Homo sapiens: one gene and its partners. The gene in region 2 interacts genetically with the main gene of each other region. Each region holds a gene or a part of one and is shown on either strand. Other genes may lie near its edges.

What was found.
Region 1: changes in B3GNT2 (region 2) and SEC31A together harm fitness less than expected from each alone (positive genetic interaction), as found in Homo sapiens cells (one large-scale study listed by BioGRID).
Region 3: changes in B3GNT2 (region 2) and MAN1A1 together harm fitness less than expected from each alone (positive genetic interaction), as found in Homo sapiens cells (one large-scale study listed by BioGRID).
Region 4: changes in B3GNT2 (region 2) and SEC24A together harm fitness more than expected from each alone (negative genetic interaction), as found in Homo sapiens cells (one large-scale study listed by BioGRID).
Region 5: changes in B3GNT2 (region 2) and EED together harm fitness less than expected from each alone (positive genetic interaction), as found in Homo sapiens cells (one large-scale study listed by BioGRID).
Region 6: changes in B3GNT2 (region 2) and ARL5A together harm fitness more than expected from each alone (negative genetic interaction), as found in Homo sapiens cells (one large-scale study listed by BioGRID).
Region 7: changes in B3GNT2 (region 2) and IGF2BP1 together harm fitness less than expected from each alone (positive genetic interaction), as found in Homo sapiens cells (one large-scale study listed by BioGRID).

Annotation. Positions count from the first base shown.
Region 1 is NC_000004.12:82,874,154-82,877,653, reverse strand, and holds part of SEC31A (protein transport protein Sec31A), read left to right. Parts: intron 1-1,831; coding exon 1,832-1,927; intron 1,928-2,902; coding exon 2,903-3,043; intron 3,044-3,500. UniProt on the Homo sapiens protein: Component of the coat protein complex II (COPII) which promotes the formation of transport vesicles from the endoplasmic reticulum (ER).
Region 2 is NC_000002.12:62,220,115-62,222,672, reverse strand, and holds part of B3GNT2 (N-acetyllactosaminide beta-1,3-N-acetylglucosaminyltransferase 2), read right to left. Parts: intron 462-2,558; 5' UTR 453-461; coding exon 1-452. UniProt on the Homo sapiens protein: Beta-1,3-N-acetylglucosaminyltransferase involved in the synthesis of poly-N-acetyllactosamine. Catalyzes the initiation and elongation of poly-N-acetyllactosamine chains. Shows a marked preference for Gal(beta1-4)Glc(NAc)-based acceptors.
Region 3 is NC_000006.12:119,185,762-119,189,261, forward strand, and holds part of MAN1A1 (mannosyl-oligosaccharide 1,2-alpha-mannosidase IA), read right to left. Parts: intron 2,817-3,500; coding exon 2,644-2,816; intron 1-2,643. UniProt on the Homo sapiens protein: Involved in the maturation of Asn-linked oligosaccharides. Progressively trim alpha-1,2-linked mannose residues from Man(9)GlcNAc(2) to produce Man(5)GlcNAc(2).
Region 4 is NC_000005.10:134,655,285-134,658,784, reverse strand, and holds part of SEC24A (protein transport protein Sec24A), read right to left. Parts: intron 1-3,500. UniProt on the Homo sapiens protein: Component of the coat protein complex II (COPII) which promotes the formation of transport vesicles from the endoplasmic reticulum (ER).
Region 5 is NC_000011.10:86,261,753-86,265,252, reverse strand, and holds part of EED (polycomb protein EED), read right to left. Parts: intron 1,082-3,500; coding exon 990-1,081; intron 1-989. UniProt on the Homo sapiens protein: Polycomb group (PcG) protein. Component of the PRC2/EED-EZH2 complex, which methylates 'Lys-9' and 'Lys-27' of histone H3, leading to transcriptional repression of the affected target gene.
Region 6 is NC_000002.12:151,821,922-151,825,421, forward strand, and holds part of ARL5A (ADP-ribosylation factor-like protein 5A), read right to left. Parts: intron 1-3,500. UniProt on the Homo sapiens protein: Lacks ADP-ribosylation enhancing activity.
Region 7 is NC_000017.11:49,035,385-49,038,884, reverse strand, and holds part of IGF2BP1 (insulin-like growth factor 2 mRNA-binding protein 1), read right to left. Parts: intron 718-3,500; coding exon 436-717; intron 1-435. UniProt on the Homo sapiens protein: RNA-binding factor that recruits target transcripts to cytoplasmic protein-RNA complexes (mRNPs). This transcript 'caging' into mRNPs allows mRNA transport and transient storage.

The DNA of each region.
Region 1 (3,500 bases), on a different chromosome or scaffold from region 2:
TTGCCTTCATAAACATTTCTGGTTGTTAATTATATAAATGCACAGCTTAATAACGATCTTAGCCTGAACAGGATGGTGAAACCCTGTCATTACAAAAAATGCAAACAATTAGCAGAACATGGTGGCACACGCCTGTAGTCTCAGCTACACGGGAGGCTGAGGTAGGTTGATGGCTTTAGCCTGGGAGGTCTACGCTGCAGTGAGCTATGATCACACCACTGCACTGCAACCTGGGTGACACATAGAGACCCTGTCTGGAAAAAAAAAAAAGACCTTGAGTTAATAGGATACTAGATTATAACAACCAAAAATGAGTATTAAGAAAATTTTAAATAGTTCCTTTTCTTATATTATAAATAGATACTTAGGGTATAGCAATACAGAAACCCAACTTGTTTATTTCTTTTTTGTTGTTGTTTTTTGTTTTTTGAAACAGCGTCTTGCTCCCTCTGCCAGGCTGGACTGCAGTGGCTCATGACTCACTGCAGTCTTGACCTCCTGGGCTCAAGCAAGTCTTCTGTCTCAGCCACCTGAGTAGCTGGGACTACAGGCATGAGCCACAACACCTGGCTAATTTTTGTAGAGACAGGGTTTTTTCGTGTTGGTCAAGCTGGTCCCAAACTCCTGGGCTCAAGTGGTCTGTCTGCCTCAGCCTCCCAAAGTGCTGTGACTACAGGCATGAGCCACTGTGCCCAGCCTTCGTTTCTATAGTTTGTGGTATCTGCTCTTTAGCTAACTCCTTTGTTAATTGTATTGAACAGCTGATGATTTTTAATAAAGTATTTTGTGTTATAGGTAGCTACTACCATAGAATGTCTCCCTTTTTTTAGTTATATGCCAACTGATAGAGAATAATTTGTAAGAGTAAATAGTAGTGGATGAAGGTCAGTATATGAAGCCCATTATCTTCCTGTACTTTATATTACAATTTCAGGTTCTTTTTGACCCTTAAGGTATGTACCAGAGAAAACCTAGAAATATTGCCACCTGGAATAAGATTGAGTGTATATGAACTAGAAATATGTGAAGAGTTATGACAAGAGATTTTACTAGTGCTGTATTGATTCAGCTCTGGAAGCTGGCTTTGAGGTATCCTGAGAAAGATGCCACAGTTTTAGGATTCAGCTTTTTCTGAAAGCAATAATTGATGACCTTTTTAATCTTATAATTAAATCTCCTTCCAGAGATGCAAAGATACAAACAGTAATCCTCACATGGTTGCATGACTGATTAAGAATTTATCCAGCCAGGTTTGGTGGCTCACGCCTGTAATCCCAGCACTTTGGGAGGCCGAGGCAGGTGGATCACCTGAGGTCAGGAGTTTGAGACCAGCCTGACCAACATGGAGAAACCCCGTCTCTACTAAAAATACAGAATTAGCCGGGAGTGGTGGTGCATGCCTGTAATCCTAGCTACTCGGGAGGCTGAGGCAGGAGAATCACTTGGACCCGGGAGGCGGAAGTTGTGGTGAGCTGAGATTGCACCATTGCACTCCAGCCTGGGCAACAAGAGCAAAACTCCATCTCAAAAAAAAAAAAAAAAAAAAGAATTTATCCATATAATTTTTAAAATAATATCTTGCATTAAAATTAATTTGTTCTCAGTAGACATCTTTTGTCTTTGTTAAGTAGAATTTTATGTTTTTCTAGAAAACTTTAAATTTTGAAAGAATTATGCATAATTTAGAAATTCATGCATATGTTTTTCACTTTTCAAATTAAATAGAAAAATTGTGTATGCTACATCTAATATCTTTCTAGCTCTGAACTGAGTTATTCTGAATTTTCTTAATTATTCATAAGTGCTATTTAGTTATGGTTTCTTCTTGCAGACTAATCTGGTAGCTTCTGGTGCTAATGAATCTGAAATCTACATATGGGATCTAAATAATTTTGCAACCCCAATGACACCAGGAGCCAAAACACAGGTATTTTTATATTGATTTTGATCATTGTAATCAAAAAAGCCAAAAGTAGTTCTCCTAAACCTACTTATTTCACTTTTAAGGCTTCTCACACAAAACATATATGTTTAAAATCATTGTTTAGATATTACTGATTTTTCTTCAGTAATTAATAAATATGTTTCTTCAAAGTATCAGTGAGTCCATCAAGAGTAAATATTTATTTAGTACCTACCACCTGGTAGACACTGGTCATTGTACTAGGCATACAGTAGTAAACAAAATGAACAAAAATCCTTAATAATTGTCTTAGATATAGTATAATTATTTTTGTTCTTTGTGTGATAGTTGCTCTGTGTTTTGGCAACAACCAACCTTCTTAAAACACACTTAGACAAGACCATGGAAGACAAGGTTTAAAATAAATACCTCAAGCCCTTTGCTTGTGTATTTCTATTAAGTTTGGTAACAACAGTCTTCTCCTGTTCTTCCCTGAGTTTCTTTATGTTGTATAGGCTATCCAACTTGAGTAGCCATTGTAACTGGCTCTAACATTTTGGCAATCTGAGAGGTAGCATAATGACAGCATATGCACTACCATTTATAAAGGTATTTTGCTAATGGTCTAGGCTGTAATTTTGCCCTGCCTAGTTTTCTGTCATAGTCACCAACATCTACTTTGTGGTCCATAATCTACCTTGCAGCAGTTGCAAAGTAAAGAAACAGTACTTGGTTTATAGCAGAAATTCAATAAAATTCTTGTTGAATGAGATATTATGAAACAAGATAATACACTTGAAGTGGTATGTACCTGCATTTTAAGTCATATAATTTTATGTGTTGAGAATGTAGAGATGTAGGACTATAAAGCAAATTTGTGGCATAAATGGATCAGATTTTTAAGTAATACACTTTTCAAAATGAAGGATCCAATTTTACAGTTAAATTTGATTATAATAGAGAAACAAGCAGTTTTTATTAACTGTTTCTTCCTTGTAGCCGCCAGAAGATATCAGCTGCATTGCATGGAACAGACAAGTTCAGCATATTTTAGCATCAGCCAGTCCCAGTGGCCGGGCCACTGTATGGGATCTTAGAAAAAATGAGCCAATCATCAAAGTCAGTGACCATAGTAACAGAGTAAGTATGTGATTGACTTGTGATGAACATGTTGTATTTCTGCTGTAGGTATTCCTATATTGTTTGTCAGAGTTGACAACAAATCAAATTTCTGTGAAGTCAAATCCTGTTTTTTTATTAATCAGTCATGTTAGAAGGAATGTTTTGTTTTTTTTCCTCTAAGGGAAAATCATAAAATTCCCAATAAATATGTTGGATATTATTAATGATGAAGAGAGATTGGTTAATCAAGGAACTTATTCCATGATATACTGGTGGTTTTGCTTTGCTAGCTGTTTTAAAACATTGCAGCAACTTTTTTTTTTTTTTTCTTGAGACGGAGTCTCGCTTTGTCGCCCAGGCTGGAGTACAGTGGCGTGATCTCGGCTCACTGCAACCTCTGCCTCCTGGGTTCAAGCACTTCTCCTGCCCCAGCCTTCCGAGTAGCTGAGATTACAGGCATGCACCATCAAGCCCG
Region 2 (2,558 bases):
AGGGACTTAATCGCCAGCAACAAGAAAGGTTTCTTTGCACACTTATCCGGCTGATCTATAAGCAGTGAATAATTGCGGCATCTCAAATACAGCAGAAAGTCTTTAAATCTGTCCGGCAAGTTGTTAAAACCCGTAACCACCGACGTGACCCTCAGGTCAGGTTCGCAGTAGTTCAGATGGCTTATATTGGAGAGCCTGCCCGCCTCCCCCGTCTGGTTGGTCAGCATGCTCAGGATGGGGTTGTACTGCCGGTTCAGCTTCTCTTGCTCTCGGTTCCAGTATGCCTCGGGAGGGGTAGATATCTTCCAGAACTTCTCTTTGGGTATTATTACTTCCCCTTTTCCATTTTTTTCTTGGCTACTGCTTTTGGAGACTTCCATAATAAAATAAATGAAGACATTTGCCATCATCAGGATACCCAACAACTTTATTCTTCGACGTCCAACACTCATTTCTCATATCTGGAATAAAGGGGTGGAGTATTGTATCAATTACTTATCAATTTGCATTTGCACATACAATTTATTTTACCTGTCTCCCCAGGAATAGTGGTTTACAGCAAAGACTCTACACTTGCACTGCCTAGGTTCAAATCTTGGCCCTTCCTTTCTAGCTTTGTGATCATGGGCAAGTGGGATAGTCCCTGTCTCAACTTCTCCATATATAAAATGGGAATCAAGCCCACTTCAAAGGATGGTTGTGAGTATATGATGTTATATGGAAAGCTTTTAAAATAGCGCGTGGCTCACAGCAAGCACTATGTAAGTGACTGTTTGAGACATGCTGAAGCTAGAAATACCTATTACTAAATAACCTCAGGAGAGTTCAACTTCCTTGCTTACAATGGCACATACAGTGCTTGGCAAACCGATTTGCCTAAATTATAACAAATACATTTTTATACTGTGTTTAGTATACACATACATACACAAAACTCTATTTACATGTGTGACGCATTGTGTGCAGTTCCATGTCATTCACTCTCAAGTTCTCTTCTATTTCATTTGAAAAACTTTGAGATTTTAAAATGTAGAAACAGGGACTGGTTACGTTGCTCAGGCTGGGCTCAAACTCCCAACCTAAGGTGATCCTCCCACCTCAGCCTCCCAAAGTGCTGGGATTATAGGCATGTCTGACCCTATCTCTCTCTCTTTTTTTTAATGTTAGTCCCAACCCTGAGTTATTTTCCAACCTACCATTTTACAGATAAGGAAACCAAAGCAGAGAGATTAAGACACTTGCCCAAGGTTGCAGGGCTAGGAAGCAGGAGACAGGAACCACAGAGCATCTCAGACAGAGAAAATGAAAGCAGACTCAGGACAGCTTTATCCCAATAGCCAAGAACTGGCAACAGCCCAATATCAACAGAACAGATGATCAAACTGTGGCATCTGCATACAATGGTATATCCCCTCGGCAATAGAAAGGGAAACTATTGTGGATGAAACATTACAACATTACATTGTGAATGAAGGCCAGACCCAAATTTTCATTTATATTAACTTCAAGAACAGGCAAAATGAATTTAGGTTCTAGAAATCTGAAAGTGATGGAGGTGGTGGGCTTAGAGAAGGATAGGAAGGAACTTCCTGGGGTACAGAAATGTACCATGTAGGTCTTGATCCTGATGAAGGCTCCACGGATGTATGCATATGTCAAACCTGAAGTGTATATTTAAGATCTCTATTGTTTGTAGCAAAAAGGGAAATACAAATGATATTTTAGTGAAATATCAAAAGATTTCAGGCTGTGGGCAATGGAAGAATAAAGAATGAGTAATGAGATGGTTTGCTGGGGATATCCAAGGTTCTAACACTATTGACATGGATGACCTATACAAGAATGAACATTTAAACCAAGGTGACATTAAAAGATAGCCCAAAAAAGTGGGATGGCAATGTTCTATAAAGAGCTGAAGATTTTCTTATCAGGTTAATTCAACTGGGAATTTATCCTTAGGTACTATTACTCATTCCCATTTTATACCTGAGGAGGTACACATTTAAAGAAGGGCAGACTGGAATACCAGCCAAGGCAAACAGATTCCAAGTCTGTACCATGCCAAAAGGTAGCTACACTTCTCCAATCCCTAAAAGAAAGCTTTGCAACTATTTTAATCTAGTATTTGCTTTTTGAAAGGAGAGGATTTTTAAGTTCACTGGATTCTAACAAACGGTAAAGTAGAAAAATATTTGTCATGCTGAGAATGCTGTAAAACTATTACATATTAGAGAGCCCAGATGAGATCAACAGGAATTCACAAGCTATTGTGTGTCTGTAAAGATCTGCCTAGTAGACCTTTATCTGGTTGCTTGTATTTACTACTGCTGAAACCACCTTTGCAAAGATTATGGACAGTAAGAAATCTAGCATGGCTGACTCCATCTTGCGTCTACCCTCACAGGCTAGCTGTCTCCACTCATTCCTGGGCATAGGCCAAGCTAACCACGGGAGAAATTTAGTTTACAGTTTAACTTCGAAGCAAAGATGGTAACAGTCCCTCCATAAAACTGATCCCTTCCTTGTTCAGGGGGCTGAGGCTAATGAAAGGTCACAAG
Region 3 (3,500 bases), on a different chromosome or scaffold from region 2:
GTAGAGACGGGGTTTCACCGTGTTAGCCAGGATGGTCTCGATCTCCTGACCATGATCATGATCCACCCACTTTGGCCTCCCAGTTTTTTTTTTTTTTTTTTTTTAAATATAAATCTACTAAAAGAACAAGTTGGACCATAAGCTGTGAAAAAATCACACTGCGAAGAGAGAAGAGAGGTTCACACTATTCAGCCCTAAAAGACCACAGCTGGAAACCAGGTCAGGAGAAGAAAATCAAGGGAAATGATGGATGAGGAAAGGAAGAGATGGCAGAACCTGCTGTCTTCGGATAATTGAGGAGCTGAAATGCAGAAGGGAGATTTTTTCCCTCTGGTACCCCCAGAGCACAGAACACTGTAAATTGTGGCTTCAAAATAAATAACTTTCTAACACCTTCAATATTACCAATTGGAATGAGTTACTTTATTAGGTGATACATTCCCCTTTGCTGGAAAGTCCTTGGGTTGATGAGGAACAGCTATCTTGCAAAGATATGGAGGGGAGTCTTGTCTTTAAGCGGAAAGCTGGATGAGGTGATTTTTAAGACCCCCTATGTTTCAGTTTGCGTTCCCTTAAAAATAAAGCATGAGACAAGGGTTGGACGCAGGATGCAGGAAGTCTATCAGGGAGGTGACATCAGGAAGTGGGCAAGTGGGAAAAGCAAAACAGGGACAGAAGAGCCAATGAATCATATTGTTCAACTGTGTGCAACGAGGCTCACTCCTGCTAGAAACCCTCTGAAGAACCATGTAGCATGCATTCCAGAATGATTCTTGAAGGAAAGAAGACTGGGACAGTTATCCACCAACTCCAAAACCTCCTTGGTTGACAGCCATTAACTCCCCAGCACTTCCCAGACCACAGCCAGCTGGCTAGGGAAAAGCTCTTCCACCTTCTTTTCCTGACATGGTTTCCAGCTGTGGTCTCAAGTATGCATCAGAACAGCCAAGTGCTGGAGGTGGGAGCTGCAAGCATATGCGGGGCTGCTGCTGAAACACAGGAGGCCACGGGGGTGGGCATAACACCAGGGGAAAAACGTGCGGCCATGCCTTCGAAGTCCCAGTTTTTCTGGTTTAAAAAATGCAAGACCCTACAGCACTCCTGGCTCACCACTATAGCTCAGGTTCTAGCAGAGGTTACTGGGGGCATCCCCAAAATTGAGACCTCAGTGTTGTGACACAGGGAAACGATTTCAGGTCATATATTATGTTAAAGAGTTGACAAGAAATAAAAATCATAACACATAAACCAACCTTATGATCTCATAAACAAGCAACCCCCTGAAGAACACAGCAAACCAAAGCATCCTGTCTACCTGGCAATACGAATTTGCTTACTTCCCATTTTTGATACCTTCTCGGCCATACATTTTGTACATTCTAACATCTATAAAATGGATGTCATAACTTAATTGGTAGTGTTATTTTTCTTAGTGGTATATAAAATAATGATGCTTCTTACTAATTATGGTGTTTTAGATTTGATGGAACACACCATTCCTGATATTTTCAACTTAAAATATTCAATTCATTTGCTGGCCAATTGAAGACCAAAACAATTCCCTATCACCAAAGTTTAGAAAAGCTTCAACTTTAACATTTTCTCCAGAGGAAAAAAACAGAAATGTAAAGAAATTACAATGACTACTGATTAAATGTAATAAAACTGCCCCCTCAAAGAGGCCTAGAGAATTGCTGTTATTTAAAATGACTGATGATTAATGATAAGACACATATTAAATGAAGAGGATAATAAGCAAGATTCACCGATGGCTTCCTAAGATATTAGTTAAATTTTACCAAAGGCAATATTCATTTTAGATTTCCTGAGAGAAGTCATTCCTCATGGACAGTTTTTAAAGATAGCTAACTTTCTAACAAAGAGTGCTAGAGAATGAGAGTGTAATTAAAGAATTTGCTTGTTCTTATCCCCTGAATTCCCTCCCACTCCTTGAGGAATAATAACTCTTACAATTAGACAGACATTGTTAGATGCATATCCTGCAGGTTGCCTCCTCAGGCATTCGGCACACAAAGCATTCACTAGATTGGTTTAGGAAGGAGGTATACTATCCTCAGCAGGAAGAGACCCAAGAGGTGACAGACAAAACAACACACTGGGCAGATGGAAAGCTTATAGATATTCCAAGAAACCTGAGACTGGTAAAGGAATATCCTTATACAAAGTAATTCTTCTATAAGTGCTTTCTAAAAGTTAGATCTAAGTAGCTATTTACTCTAAGTAAAAGCATATACTAGCATTTTAAAGCCCAAAGACAGAAAAAAACATGAAGTGGTTTATTGAAATAGAGGTGAATACCCCAAGCTGCCAACAACCCTTAGGTGGAATTAAGAGATCATCATTTTTGTATTAATGGGAACTTAATTTTAGACTATGCCTTTCTAGTTATCTCCTTCAATATCTAAGTCTATCAGTAGATATATCTATATCAATGTTATACAAAGCAAAGCTGAAGCCAGGGATATAAAATGACTTCAATGAAAATACACAGTCCTGGGTGGAAAAAATCCTGGTCGAAGCATTAAAAATTATAGAAAAGTTGATAAGCCTGATTTATGGGTATCACTGAACATTTTTTACTATGAAATTTATCTATAAGAAACATGCAAATTAAAACATCACCTCTACGGCTTCCCAGGCCCATTTCCTGTACTTTGGATCATGAGTCAGTCTCCACATATACATGTAAGTCTCCATAACTTCTGGCCGTAAGATGTAGTATTTTTCATTTTGTCTTGTAGCGATGGCTTCAACACCACCATCAAATCTGAAAGCTTCTGGTCCCAGTTTCATAACTAAAGGACATGGAATGAATGAATAAGGGTTATTTTCCTGGACAGTGCTTACAGTCAATAACTTAAATGAAACTAGAAAGTACAGTCATCCCTCAGTATCTATGAGGGACTGGTTCCAGGACCCTCCGAGGATAACAAAATCCATGGATCCTTGAGTCCCTTATATAAAATGGCAAAGTATTCGCATACAACCTGGGTACATCCTCCCATATACTTTAAATCACCTTGTTTACTTATACTACTTAATACAGTGTAAATGTTATGTAACTAGGTGTTATACTGTATTGTTTAGGGAATAAAGATAAGAACAAAAACTCTATAAATGTTCACTACAGACAGAACCATCCATTTTTTGGGAACATTTCTGATCTGCAGTTGTGGAACCCAGGGATACGAAGGTCTGACTGTACTTTAACAACACTGAAGAGAAATGTCAAAGTAGTCATTTTAAAAACGAGTTATAAACATCATGTAATATATAATATTCATATACTTAAACAATTTAGTCATTGAAAAGAGTCCATTTTAGAAAATATTAACAATTTATTTTTTTCATTTAACCCCCATTTACTGAGCACCCACCAGGCAGATACAAGGCACCATGAAATACCATTTGAGTTAGCCAGAAACTTAGTGGTTGACAATCCTAAGTAATTTCGTAACAGAAGGCCAGTTATTTACACT
Region 4 (3,500 bases), on a different chromosome or scaffold from region 2:
TATCCTTCCTATAAGTCGTCTGTTTTCCAGTAAATGTCCTCTCCCCCACCCCATTCTTCCCCTATTAAAATCGTGTAGAGGTTGGGCATGGTGGCTCATGCCTGTAATCCCATCACACTGGGAGGCCAAAGCAGAACTACTTGAGCTCAGGAGTAGGAGACCAGCCTGGGCAACACAGCGAGACTCCATTTCCACACAAAAAAATTAAAAATTAAAAAATTAGCCAGGAGTTGTGGCACATGCCTGTAGATCTAGCTTCTCAGGAGGCTGAGGCAAGAGGACTGCTTGAGCCCAGGAGTTTGACTTCAGTGAGCTATAATTAGGCATTCCACCCTGGGCTACAGAGTGAGAACGTGTCTCAAAAACAAAAAGGAAAAAGTGAGCATGATAGTCACCCAAGTAATGTTCCAACATATTCAAAATTAAAACAATCAAATCAACTGTGGTTTCAAACAAAATGTAGCATATTGTTTAATGTTTTAAAATTGAATTATATTGCTTTTGATTTTTTTTTGAGACAGAGTCTCGCTCTGTTGCCCAAGCTAAAGTGCAGTGGTGCGATCTCGGCTCACTGCAACCTCCGCCTCCTGGGTTCAGGCGATTCTCCTGCCTCATTCAGCCTCTCGAGTAGCTAGGATTACAGGTGTGCACCACCACGCTGGCTAATTTTGTATTTTTAGTAGAGACGGGATTTCACCATGTTGGCCAGGCTGTTCTTGAACTTCTGACCTCAAGTGATCTGGCCACCTCAGCCTCCCAAAGTGCTGGGATTACAGGCGTGAGCCACCATGCCCAGCCATATGTTGATATTTTTAATGTTTGGTTTTACAATAGTACAATAGCTATAACCCTATGAAGTTTACATCTAGTTTTGTGTTTGCATATACACATTTAATAAAAATAATTTTTGCCAGGCATGTTGGCTTGATCTTGTAATCCGAGCACTTTGAAAAGCCAAGGTGGGAGCACGGCTTGACCTCAGGAGTTCAAGAATAACCTGGGTAATATAGTGAGACCTCGTCTCTACAAAAAAATAAATAATTAGCCAGTTGTGGTGGCACGTGCCTATATTCCCAGCTACTTGGGAGGCTGAGGCGGGAGGATCACTTGAACCCAAGAGATCAAGCCTGCAGTGGGCTGTGATCATGCCCCTGCACTCTAGCCTGGGCAACAGAGTGAGAACCTGTGTCAGAAGTAAAATAAATAAATAAATAATTTAACATTGGGACAGCAGAGAAATATTTAGTATCTATACATTACTCAAATTTTTAAAAACTGATTTGAGGAAACAGCATTCATGGGATTTTATGTGGAATTGAATATGGGTGATGAAGAGAGGAAAAAATCTAGGATGACTCCTAGGTTTCTGACCTGAGCAACCTGGTGGATGGCCGTGTTTATTCATTTGAACAGAAAGAGAAAAGAATAGAAATGTAGGCCAGGCACGGTGGCTCATGCCTGCAATCCCAGCACTTTAGAAAGTCAAGGTGGGAGGATCACTTGAGGCCAGGAGTTTGAGACCAGCCTGGGCAATAGCAAGTCCCTATCTCTACAAAATATAAGTTTTGGTTGTGTGTGTGTGTGTGTGTGTGTGTGTGTGTGCGTTTTTCAGAAATGAGGTCTCGCTCTGCCACCCAGGCTGAAGTGTCACAGCTCACCGCAGCCTCGACCTCCCAAGCTCAAGCGATCCTCCCACCTCCCCTCTTGAGTAGCTGGGCCTACAGGCGTGCACCATTATGCCTGGCTAATTTTTAAATTTTTTTGTAGAGATGGGGTCTCCCTAAGTTGTCCAGGCTGGTCTCGAACTCCTGGGCTCAAGGGATCTTCTTGACTCGACCTCCCAAAGTACTAAGATTACAAGCATGAGCCACTCCACCCACTTGATCAAGGATCAAGGATTACTTGAGCCCAGGAGTTCAAGGCTGCAGTGAGCTATCATTGCATCATTGCATTCCGGCCAGGGCGACAGAATGAGAGCTGTCTTTAAAAAAAAAAAAAAAAAAAAAGTCGGATGCAGTGGCTCATGCCTGTAATCCCAACACTTTGGGAGGCCGAGGTGGGTGGATCACCTGAAGTCAGAAGTTCGAGACCAGCCTGACCAACACGGTGAAACCCCGTCTCTACTAAAATACAAAAATTAGCCGGGCATGGTGGCACACGCCTATAGTCCCAGCTACTCAGAGGCTGAGGCAGGAGAATTGCTTGAACCTGGGAGGCGGAGGTTGCAATGAGCGGATATCGTGCCACTGCACTCCAGCCTGGTTGACAGAGCAAGACTCTGTCTCAAAAAAACAAAGGTGGGGAATGGCAAAGGGAAGAGAGATCGAAGAGTTATTTTAAACACACTAATTTTCAGGTGCCACCAAGAAATCTAAGTGGAGATGTCCAGTATAAAGATATTTATCTGCGCTGGGCGCGGTGGCTCAGGCCTGTAATCCCAGCACTTTGGGAGGTCAAGGCGGGCAGATCATGAGGTCAGGAGAGCAACACCATCCTAAGACGGTGAAACCCCATCTCTTCTAAAAATACAAAAAATTTGCCGGGTGTGGTGGCACATGCCGGTGGTCCCAGCTACTCCGGAGGCTGAGAAAGGAGAATCGCTTGAACCCAGGAGGCAAAGGTTGCAGTGAGCCAAGATCGTGCCACCTCACTCCAGCCTGGGCAACAGAGCAAGACTCTGTCTTAAAAAAAAAAAAAAAAAGATATTTAGCTGCAGCCAAAGTGACAGATTTCACCTTAAGATATAATTATGGGAGTCACTGATCTATGCATAAGATTTAAAACCATGGGAATTAAAGACACCCAGGGAGTATATAAGAGTAAGAAAAATAGGTCACCTTGAAGAACACCAATATTTAAGGAGGAGAGAGAAAAAAACAATCAGAAATGGAAGAAATATTGAGAATACTGCTGTTGAGAAATAGCAACCAAAAAAAAGAAAGAAAACCATAACTACCCTTCTGGTGATATCCTAGAAACCAAAGAAAGCAATTGTTGTAAAAACAAAATAACAGCCAAAGGTATCAAATGCAGCTCGGAAAATGAGAACTGAAAAATATTTTTCTATTTAATAACCAGGAAGCCATTTGTGGCCTTATTTATTTATTTATTTATTTTGAGATGAATTCTTGCTCTGTCGCCCAGGCTGCAGTGCAATGTCATGATCTCGGCTCACTGCAACCTCCACCTCTCGGGTTCAAGTGATTCTCCTGCTGAGAATCACTCAGGAGGCTGAGGCCTCCTGAGTAGCTGGGATTACAGGCGCACGCCACCACACCCGGCTAATTTTTGTATTTTTAGTAGAGACAAGGTTTCACCATGTTGGCCAGGCTGGTCTTGAACTCCGGACCTTGTGATCCACCCGCCTTGACCTCCCAAAGTGCTGGGATTACAGGCATGAGCCACCACGCCCAGCCTTGTGGCCTTATTAAGGACAATTTTGGGATGTGTGGGTAAAGAAGCTAAATTAGAAAGTTAGAGGCAAGAATGAATGCAGATGA
Region 5 (3,500 bases), on a different chromosome or scaffold from region 2:
AATTATGAGCACCATTTTATAAGAGCCTAAGAACTTTAGGCTTGATGTTTATTGAATTCACAGTTGTGGTACTTCTAATTACCTCACTGTCAACAGCAACAAGACATCCTTCGAGACAATACCACTAATTTGGAGTTATTAATAAAGAACAGTTCACTTGGCTTTTACACACATAAAGCCAGACGTAGAATGCTACTGCAACTTTTAGGAAATCCAAGTTGACAAGGTATTCGAAGGAAGGTATGATTCTCACAAAGGAATCCAAACTTCAACATAGGAATATTTTAGTACCTTCAACTAAAATGTTACATGCTGTAAAATATGGTGCCCCTTTACATAGTTTAATGGAAAACAACCTAAGAGATGTGAAATTACTACAGGAATCAAATGAGCTAAATATGGAACATAAGCAAAAATAATGTTAAAATCTGAAACCTAACTAAAAACACTTGTATAATGGACCAATGGATTACAATACATCAATATAAAGGTGGTATTTATCTTTAAACTGGTCTTGTATTATACCACGCCACCCAAAGAGAATGGCTAGAAATAAGTTACCTAAAACAGTGTGAGCACAATAAAACACTTCCAAATAGCAAAAAACGTTATGTTTCAACTTCAAACAAAAGATGGAAAAGCACTTTAATGGCTACATAGTTTAATTTTTTTCTTTAATAACTGCGAAATGGCAAAACAAACATTAACTTAGTGATTTTAGATTAAAAGGAAAGGAGCAAGATCATACTGCTCTCATAAGACTCCAGGGATTGGTATACAGTGCAAGTAATTTAAAAAATAAATAAATAAATATAGTCTTTACTTGTTTTATTCCTTCATCTGGAGATTAAAATCTTCTATGTCAAATGTAAGTGAATGTCTGCCTGACAGGCTACATGAAACACACTTTCTTATAAGGAAACAGTTCCATGGAGACTGTTCACAGCTATGTAAACCTGAAAGTCATTGCCCTGCAGTTTCCAACTTACAGCACTTAGAACTTCATCTCTGTGCCCTTCTACGCCTCCAAATATTGCCACCAGAGTGTCCGTCTGGATATTCCATAATCGTAAAGCATGATCTAGTATAAACATACAAAAATTAGGCGAATGTTTTTTATTTACTGTGAACTTTCAACATCTTGTGAAAGAAAAACTACTAAAGTCTAGATGTAAGTTATGCACAGTAAAGCCTAAAAATGGAATCCATATTACATAGCAACTTAAAATGTTTACATCAGATGTAGAATTAGCTAGGTAAGTGCTATAGTTTGAATAGGCCCCCCCAAAAGCATGTGCTAGAAACTCAATCCCCAATGCAATAGTGGTGTGAGCTGGGGCCTAATGGGAGGTATTTAGGTCATGGGGGCTCCATCCTCACAAATGGATTAATACTGATTATAAAAGGGCCTGAGGCTATAAATTCAATCTCTTGCTCCCTCACACCCTCTCCTGCCCTTTTGCTGAGACGATTCAGCATGAAGGCTCTCACCAGATGCCGGCACCATGTTCTTGGACTTCCCAGTCTCCAGAAACAGGAGCCAAATAAATTTTTGTTCATTATAAATCACCCAGTCAGGTACGGTGGCTCATGCTTGTAACCCCAGCACTTCAGAAGGCCAAGATGGGAGGACTGCTTAAGCCCAGGAGTTTGAGACTAGCCCTAGCAATATAGCAAGACCCTGTCTCAACAAAAAATTTAAAAATTAGTGAAGCCTGAGCAATAGAAAAGAAATTAATTAATCCATCAGTCAGTCACCTAGTCTGTGGTATTGTGTTATAGCAGCACAAAATGGACTCAGACAGAATGTTGGTACTCAGAAACGGGACTATTGCTATAAATACCTGAAAATGTGGAAATGACTTTGGAACTGGGTAACGAGGAGAGGCTGGAAGAATCTGGAGGAGCAGGCTAGAAAAAGCCTATATTGGTGTGAGTGGAGCATTGAGGGTAATTCCAGTGAGGGCTGAAAAGAAGACAAGAGCTTCAGGCAGAGCCTTTATCTTCTTAAGGATTACTTAAGTGGTTGTGATCAGAATGTTGGTAGAACAATGTTGGTCTCAGACAGAATGAGGTTGGTCTCATTCAGTGAGGTCTCAGACAGAAATGAGAAGTTATTGGAAAATGGAGTAAGAGCTATCCCTGTTGGCAGGGTGTGATGGTTCATGCCTGTAATCCCAGCACTTTGAGATTGAGGCAGGAGGATCACTTGAGGCCAGGAATTCAAGACCAGCCGGGGTAACATAGTGAGACCCAATCCCTACAGAAAATAAATTAGCCAGGTGTGGTGGCGTGTACCTGCAGTTCTAGCTACTTAGGGGACTGAGGCAAGAGGATCAATTGAGCCTAGGAGTTTTGGGCTGCAGTGAGCTATGATCATGCCACTGCACTGCCTGGGTGACAGAGACCAACCCTGTCTTTAAAAGAAAAAAAAAAAAAGCCAGGCCAGGTGTGGTAGCTCATGCCTGTAATTCCAGCAGCATGGGAGGCTGAGGTGGGTGGACACTTGAGCTCAGGAATTCGAGACTAGCCTGGGCAACATGGTGAAACTCCATCTCTACAAAAAATACAAAAACTAGCGGGGTGTGGTGGCATGTGCCTGTAGTCCCAGCTACTCGGGAGGCTGAAGTGGAAGGATCACTGGCATGGTGCCGGCATCCGGTGAGGGCCTTCATGCTGAATCGTCTCACAGCAAAAGGGAAGGAGAGGGTGTGAGGGAGCAGAGGTTGTGCCACTGCACTCCAGCCTGGGTGACAAGAATGAGACCTTGCCTCAAAAAAATAAATTAAATAAATAAATAAAAGCCATCCTTGCAATACAGTTGTGAAGAACTTAGCAGGACTGTGTCCATGCCCTAGGACTTTGTGGAAGGCAGAAGTTAAGAGCAATGAATCCAATACCTGGCAGAAGAAATATCTGAGCATCAAAGCATTCACAGTGATGCATGGCTTCTTCTGGCTGCTTATCATAAAATGAGAAATGATCTAAAGGTGAAATTTGTAATTAAAAAGGAAAGCAAAACAGAAACATTTATAAACTCTCAGCCTGGCCATGTAAAGAAAAAAAAAGCAGGCTGGGTGTGGTGGCTCACACCTGTAATCCCAACACTTTCGAAGGCTGAGGTGGAAGGATCATTTGAGCCCAGAAGTTCAAGACCAGCCTGGGCAACATAGCAAGTCCTTGTCTCTTCAAAAAATATATAAAATAAAAAAGCATGTTTGAGAGAGAATATTAAGGATGTAGCTAAGTGACTAATTGCTAAGGAGATTAATAGGGAAGAGAAGGCAGGTTCTATTCACCAAGACAATGGGATAATGACCACAAAGGCATTTCAGAGATCTTCAAGACATAGCTAAGACCTTGAGGGCAAGGTTTCCAGAGTAGCACCCATGGGACCTCTACATTCACTGTCCAGGGCCACTTCAGCACTTTGCTCCCCCTATTCCAAGGCAGTGCTCTTTGGTCACCCCATAGCTTGAAGGGGCTCAAGTATGGCTCAG
Region 6 (3,500 bases), about 90 Mb from region 2:
TCACTGCAACCTCTGCCTCCCAGGTTCAAGGGATTCTCCTGCCTCAGCCTCCCGAGTAGCTGGAACTACAGGTGCGCACCACCACGCCCAGCTAATTTTTGTATTTTTAGTAGAGACAGGATTTCACCATATTGGCCAGGCTGGTCTTGAACTCCTGACCTCATGATCCACCTGCCTCGGCCTGCCAAAGTGCTGGGATTACAGGTGTGAACCACCTGCACGTGAATCATCAGAAGTTTACTGTGCCTGGCCTAATTTTTGTATTTTTAGTAGAGATAGGGGTTTTGCCATGTTGGCCAAGCTGGTCTTGAACTCCTGACCTCAGGTGATCCATCTGCCTTGGCCTCCCAAAGTGCTGGGATTACAGGCATGAGCCACTGCGTCCCGGCCACCAATGACCATTTTTAATAGCTTCCTAAATCTAAGACATAGCATGTGGGTCACAATGAGAACTATAAAATTAAGACCAAACTGTGCAATGGGCTCAAAGACAAACGTGTCATCTCAATAATAGGGTCAGATTAGTCACAAAGTTTTTAATAGTAGATCAATTTCCTCTGAACATCCTTACTCTCACCACCACAGCCTGTTCCTTTCATTAGCAAGATGGAAAAGCATCTATACAAAATGTAAATTTGTAGCCAAAAAGTGCTATAATGCACTTCGAAATAAAGACTTCATAGAATCCCAATATGCCTACTACAAGAATGTTATTGTGGACAAATGCAATAAAACTTTCAGCCATTCCAACTCTTTGATGCACAAGAATCATCAGAAGTTTACTGCTTAGTATGATTTTTCTTTTAGACTATGTCACAGCATTCCTGTATTTACTCAAATAAGCCACAACAACTGCACTGTTCTAATGCTTTGATGGAACTGTGAGTTACCAATTAGGCTTTAACATACCAATCAATACTTTACTGTTTTGTCATGAAAATTGCTTCTTGTTTCCCTTTTCCTTCATTTCCTTTTGACACAGGCAGTCTACCAGTTCCATTCATTGCCAGTTTTTAAAAGTTAATATATATTCCCCCAACTCATCAGTCAATAAATTAAGCATAATAATAATTGTTATTGTAGAGAATTACTATCTCTGTGAATCATACAACATCAGAAAACACAAAAACACCAGGGCAAATAAATGGAGAGTCCTCTTGATTCATCATTTTTACCTCATATCTGAACTATCACTAAGCCCTATTAATTCTATGTCTCTCAGAGCAAAAAATTCCATTTGTCATATTCACTATAGTTCTCTTAGTCCATAGGACAGCTCCTGGAATAAAGCATGAGCTTAATATTTTTCATGAATAAATAAATCAGATCTGGAAAATATAAAGGTTAGGAGAGAGATATCTGCTTAAGTCGTTTTGTATTAAAAGTTCAATTTTTAAAACTTAAAAGTCTTAACAATAAAAAGAAAGTTTGAAAATAAACTTGCTATTACAGTAATGGTAAATTAAGTTTCAGGGGAATAACCAAATTTTCTTTTGCACTATGAGGTTGCTGAAAAAAAAAAGCAATGATTACACATGGCAAAATTAGAGATCCAATCAGGAGGCAGAAATCACACAATAATTTGAACTTGGAAAGTTCAACATCAAAAAAATATTACAGGGGACTGGAGTAATGAGAGATTGGCTAAAAGATTATGGGAATGTCAAATTTAAGAAGCACTCACTATCCCTAGGGTTGAGATAAAGGTCCTCCCCCTCCCTCCAGACTTAAGATGCAGATCTCGTTGGAGGGCACAGATAGTGGCTCACTGAATGGCAGAGAAGTAGCTGTGGTGAGGTGCCAGTGGAACCTGCCCAAAAATCCTCCCTCTTCGGTGCTGAGGAAAACTGTTTATTGAGAGGTATTTCACTGGAGACCTTCCATTATGAAACCAACTAAGACGGGTACTAGGGGAAGCTGTTGGCTGCTGCTGACCACTATGCAGTACAAGAGCCAGGCCTTGGAGACGGTGTTCATGCTACAAGCAGAGCCCGTCAAGAAAGCACACTATAACTAAGTACAAACACCCTTTCCTCCTACAATGCCTCTCCAGTGCAGCCTACTGACAAAACTTAACATTTTGCCCAGTGGCAAAAGAAAAACGTTTAAAGGACCTAGCTCCACTTCCACAGAGCATGCAAAAAGGGTTTACAAATGGTCTCTGACTTGTGATGTTGTAAAAGCAACACACATTCAGTAGAAACCATACTTCGAGTACCCATGCAAAGATTCTGTTTTTCACTTTCAGTACAGTATTCAATAAATTACACGAGATATTCAACCTTTATTATAAAATAGGCTTTGGGTTAGATTTTGCCAACCTGTAAACTAACATAAATGTTCTGAGCACGTATAAAGCAAGCTAGGCTAAAGCCATGGTTTTCAGTAAGTCTGGCATATTAAACTCATTTTTTACTTACTGTATTTTCAATTATCTATCTATCACAAATTATCAACTATCACAAATTGAGGAGCATCTGTATTAGAAGCTAAGACACAGTCTACCCCTTGGCTACTCAGCTTCCATATGTACTCTTCTCTACACATTTAAACTCCCTAATAATAATAATAATAATAATAATAACAACAATAATAAGCCAGAAACAGAGGTGGCTTCCTCAGCATCAGGTTCCTGAAGCACAGGCAGCTTCTCCTGCACCCATTCATACTTATAATTCCTTTTCTAGCAACCAACCAAGAGAGCAATACAAGGCTATTAATGAGGAAATTCCACAACTTCTTTTATAGTTCACATCAGTCAGTTCTTTTTATCTGAGTCCTTCTTATACAAAGTCCTTCTTACACGAAGTTGTGTGCAAATGTGCGTGCGTGCATGTGTGTGTAGAACTAACTCTGGCACTAGATAATCTTGTTAAAATCCAGGTGTGTGTGCGTAGGAGAAATAACTCCGGCACTACGTAATCGTGGTTAAAATCCAGGTCTATCACTTTTACCTATAGTGCTTAAAGCAAGTTACCTGTTTCCGTACCCCTGTAAAATAAGGGGAATAATATCTACCTTGTAGGGTTGTTGTAAAGAGTAAATCAACTAAGTGAATATTAAATCAAACAACCTGTGTGAACCTTGCACAAGTGTTAACCACTATTATTTTACTTGTAGAGACAAAGTGAGTTAATTTCCTGTCTCCCAACACTACATGAAAGCTCCATAAAGGCAGTGGAATTTGTCTGTTTTGTTCCCTTATCCCACCATGTAGAACACTTCCTGGACTAAATAGGTGTTAAAATATTTGTTTATTGAGAACAAGTAAACCACTGATCACAAGCTCTTCTATAAAAAAAAGTTACTAATGGCAACTTTTCGAAGTTCTAAAGACAACTTAGAGATTAGCAACTGAAAAAGTTAATGGGGGGAGGAGGAGGGAGGGAAAAATGATGTCAATCTCTTCTTTAAGAGATTCCTTCAGGGTTTTAACTTGCCTGGCTCTGGCATATACCAGTTGCATGGCCTGGGGAAAAAAAATCATTCCACTTAAGCCT
Region 7 (3,500 bases), on a different chromosome or scaffold from region 2:
AAAAAAAATATTAAAGAAAGAAGGTGGCAGTGGCAGAATGGGAGATGGGACACAATTATGAAGGTCCTAATTTTGGACAGGTTGGCCAGCCCTGTTACCACACTAAGTGATCATGAAATCACAGAGCACTGAGTTGCTGACTCATCAAAATGAGGTTTGCTTGGAGACTTTTTTTATGAAACTTCACATGAGAAATTATAGAATCTCTCTTGCTAATACGAGTGTGTGGCCTAGCACCCCAGACCCATTCTCCCTCCCTATCTGCCCTCCCTTTCCCAGGAGGCTGGTATTGGAAGCAGGGACCCCTGAATGCTCCAGGCAACATTTCCTAAAAGGTAAATGTTGATGTCTCCAGCATGCTTCCAGGAGGCCTCTTTAGGTACCAACCACTGTTCCCTAGCACCCAACCTCCATTCCCCAAGAGCCAAGACTCACTTGGACTGGGTCTGTTTTGTGATGTTGCGGATGGTGGCCCCCTCCTTGCCAATAATGGCACCCACATACTGGGTGGGCACCAGGAGCCGAAGGGGGATGTCCACTTGCTGCTGCTTGGCTGGGGCCCCCGCTGCCACAGGTGAGCCCTGGCGGGGCTGACCCCGAGAGCCAAAGCCCCCTCGGCGCCCATTCTCAGGTCCCTGTGCTATCTGCTCATCGGGGATGTAGGAGACCTTCAGGGCATGGTTCTCCAACTGGTGGCCATTCAGCTTCATGATGGCTCTGGGGACAGAGTGAGAGTCTACAGGTCATTCCAATCCATGCCAATCATACCAGATGCTCTCTTGGCCAAAGCACTCTAGTAAGTTACAGCTTGGAACACACTAAAGAAAAGGAGATAGTCACCTGCCCACTACCTCCACCTCCATTTTTCACAACTTTCCAGTCTAAATGGCATCAAAGACTTCAAAGGAAAAGTAAATAAATACAGTGTTCCCTAACACTTAGTTGGGATTTATTGTTCACAAAGGCTTTCCACTGGAACCATCAGAGAAATGGGCTTCCAGTCCAATAGAAAGTATAGGGTTCTGCTAGCCTAAAAAGGAAGAGCAAGCCATAGATCTCAAAGTACTCCCATGCCAACTGGAAAGCCTACCACAGACCTGAAGAGGCTCCACAAAGCTAACACATACACTTCCCGGATTGAGGAATCCCTACTACAGGGTGAGGAAACCAACTGCTAACTACTACATACTCCTAACTTTAGAGATGATGAAACCAAGGTCAAAGGAGATTGAAATGTATACATGTAGAATTCAAATGTTAATCCTGCCCTAATGAAGTGTGGGGTTTATTTTCGTTTTTGAAATAAAAGATCTTTATTTCAGATAAAAATTAATATTTCCATAATTAGGATAAAGCAAACACACATTCTTGAGTCCATTATTTAAGGAAATTTATACTATAAATGACTTCCATGAATATTAGAGTTCCTGAATATCATTTGAATATTTGCCTACAGGCTTATGGGAAGTTTCTGTAGCCTTCTCTTTGTAGAAATTCCAGTTTTTCTGAATTCTTCCTTCCTTCAGGTATTCCATTTTGCATTCTTCATAAAAGGCTGGATCATTATAGTGAGCAGTTAGACGTCCTTTCAATAGAGAATTTTCTTTCCAGCATTTTCCTACCGTAAGGGTTCCAGAGTTCTTGCAACATTTGGTAAAATCTTGAAGTTGTTCAGAACACCTCTCTCTGGCCTTTTCTCTCATTATTTTAGGGATCCAAACATCTTTTTCAACATGTCTGAGATGCTGCTTCAAAACTTGCAGCGTCTTCCCATTGTTTTTTATATAAAATTCAAACTCCTTGAAATGCTTGAAATGGTTTACATGACATTTCATAATTCACAACTGAAACCCCTCCATAGCCATGGCACACACTCCTCTTTGATCTCAATTCTTTCTTGTGGCCTTTGCTTAAGCCACTGTTTTTTGTTTTGTTTTGTTTTTTTCTTGAGACAGAGTTTTGCTCATTGCCCAGGCTGCAGTGCAATGGCGTGATCTCGGCTCAGTGCAACCTCCGCCTCCCGGGTTCAAGCCTCAGCCTCCCGAGTAGCTGGGATTACAGGCATGCGCCACCATGCCCCGCTAATTTTGTATTTTTAGTAGAGATGGGGTTTCTCCATGTTGGTCAGGCTGGTCTCCAACTCCCGACCTCAGGTGATTCGCCCGCCTCGGTCTCCCAAAATGCTGGGATTACAGGTGTGAGCCATCGCGCCCAGCCCAAGGCACTGTTTTTCAAATTTCAGGGCAACCCATCAGAGAGTTGTTAAATTAATCTGCCAGGTTGAACGCCATCGTGGCGGGTGTTGAAGCAGCAATTGAGGAATTCTTCTAATGAGCTGCTGGTGCACAAAAAAAAACAAACATGCAGTCTCGAAATTTTAGCTCCTCCGCAGTCCCCCATTTTTTTTTATTATTTTTTATTTTTTTATTTTTTTGATGGAACGCTTCACAAATTTGCGTGCCATCTTCGCGCAGGGGCCATGCTAATCTCTGTACCGTTCCAATTTTAGTATATGTGCTGCCGAAGCGAACACCTCCGCTGTCTTTTGTGCTACCTCTCCTTCCAGAGTCTCCAGAGACCCCTAACTGCCCACTTGGCTCTGGGGCCACAATCTCGCAACGCTCCCCAACCCAATGGGGTCCGCCAGCACGGGGCTGTAATACCACACACCACCAGCAGATGCCGCAGCCCCAACACTTCACAAAGCTAACTTTCAAAATTACAGCCATTTTACTACCTGCTATATACTTGCCAAGCGCTATGCCGGTCGCTTCCAGTCAACCCCGGTCGCTTCCAGTCAACCCCGCACCAGTTGGCCCAGCTGGGAAATGCGGTCACCGTGAGGATTAAGTTAGTAAAATGGTACACAGTGCCTTAAACAGTGACCGGCTGGCCGTGTCAAATTACCAGGCCGAGACCAGCCTGGAGCCGCGGCCTCCACTCCCGCCTAGTGCAGTCCCGGGCCCTCCCACAAGGAGGTCCGGCCCCCGGGGTTGCCTTCCAGCCAGTTGGGGCTTTTGCCCATTTTCCTATCGCCTGCCACCAAGCTGCTGCTACGTATCCCGGCTGGAATCTGACTACCCCTCCAGCAAAGTGGTGGGGGGCGGGCCCGGGTCAGGGAGGCCACATCACCAGCTTCCTGCAGGAACTTCTAGAAGGCGAGCAGCCCGGAAAATGGCATGGGCGGCCGCCCAGGGGAGACCTCGGAGGGCAAGGCATCCCCGTTCCCAGGTGCCCCAGCCACCCCCACCGCTGCAGGTGCACGCCCGCAGGGAGGCGCCATGTGGTGGGGCCCCACATGTGTGTGGGGAGACTGCGAGGTCCCAGCCTACCCACCGCAGGCCACTGCCCCAGACCGCTGCCACCTCCCAGCGCACCTCGCATCCGCATCTGCCCAGGCTCCCAGGGCAAAGATAACTGAATTAGGACACCAGTATTCCAATCTTAGTTCTATTGCTCACTAGCTATATGAAGCAGGAAACTTACAACCTAGTCTAGAC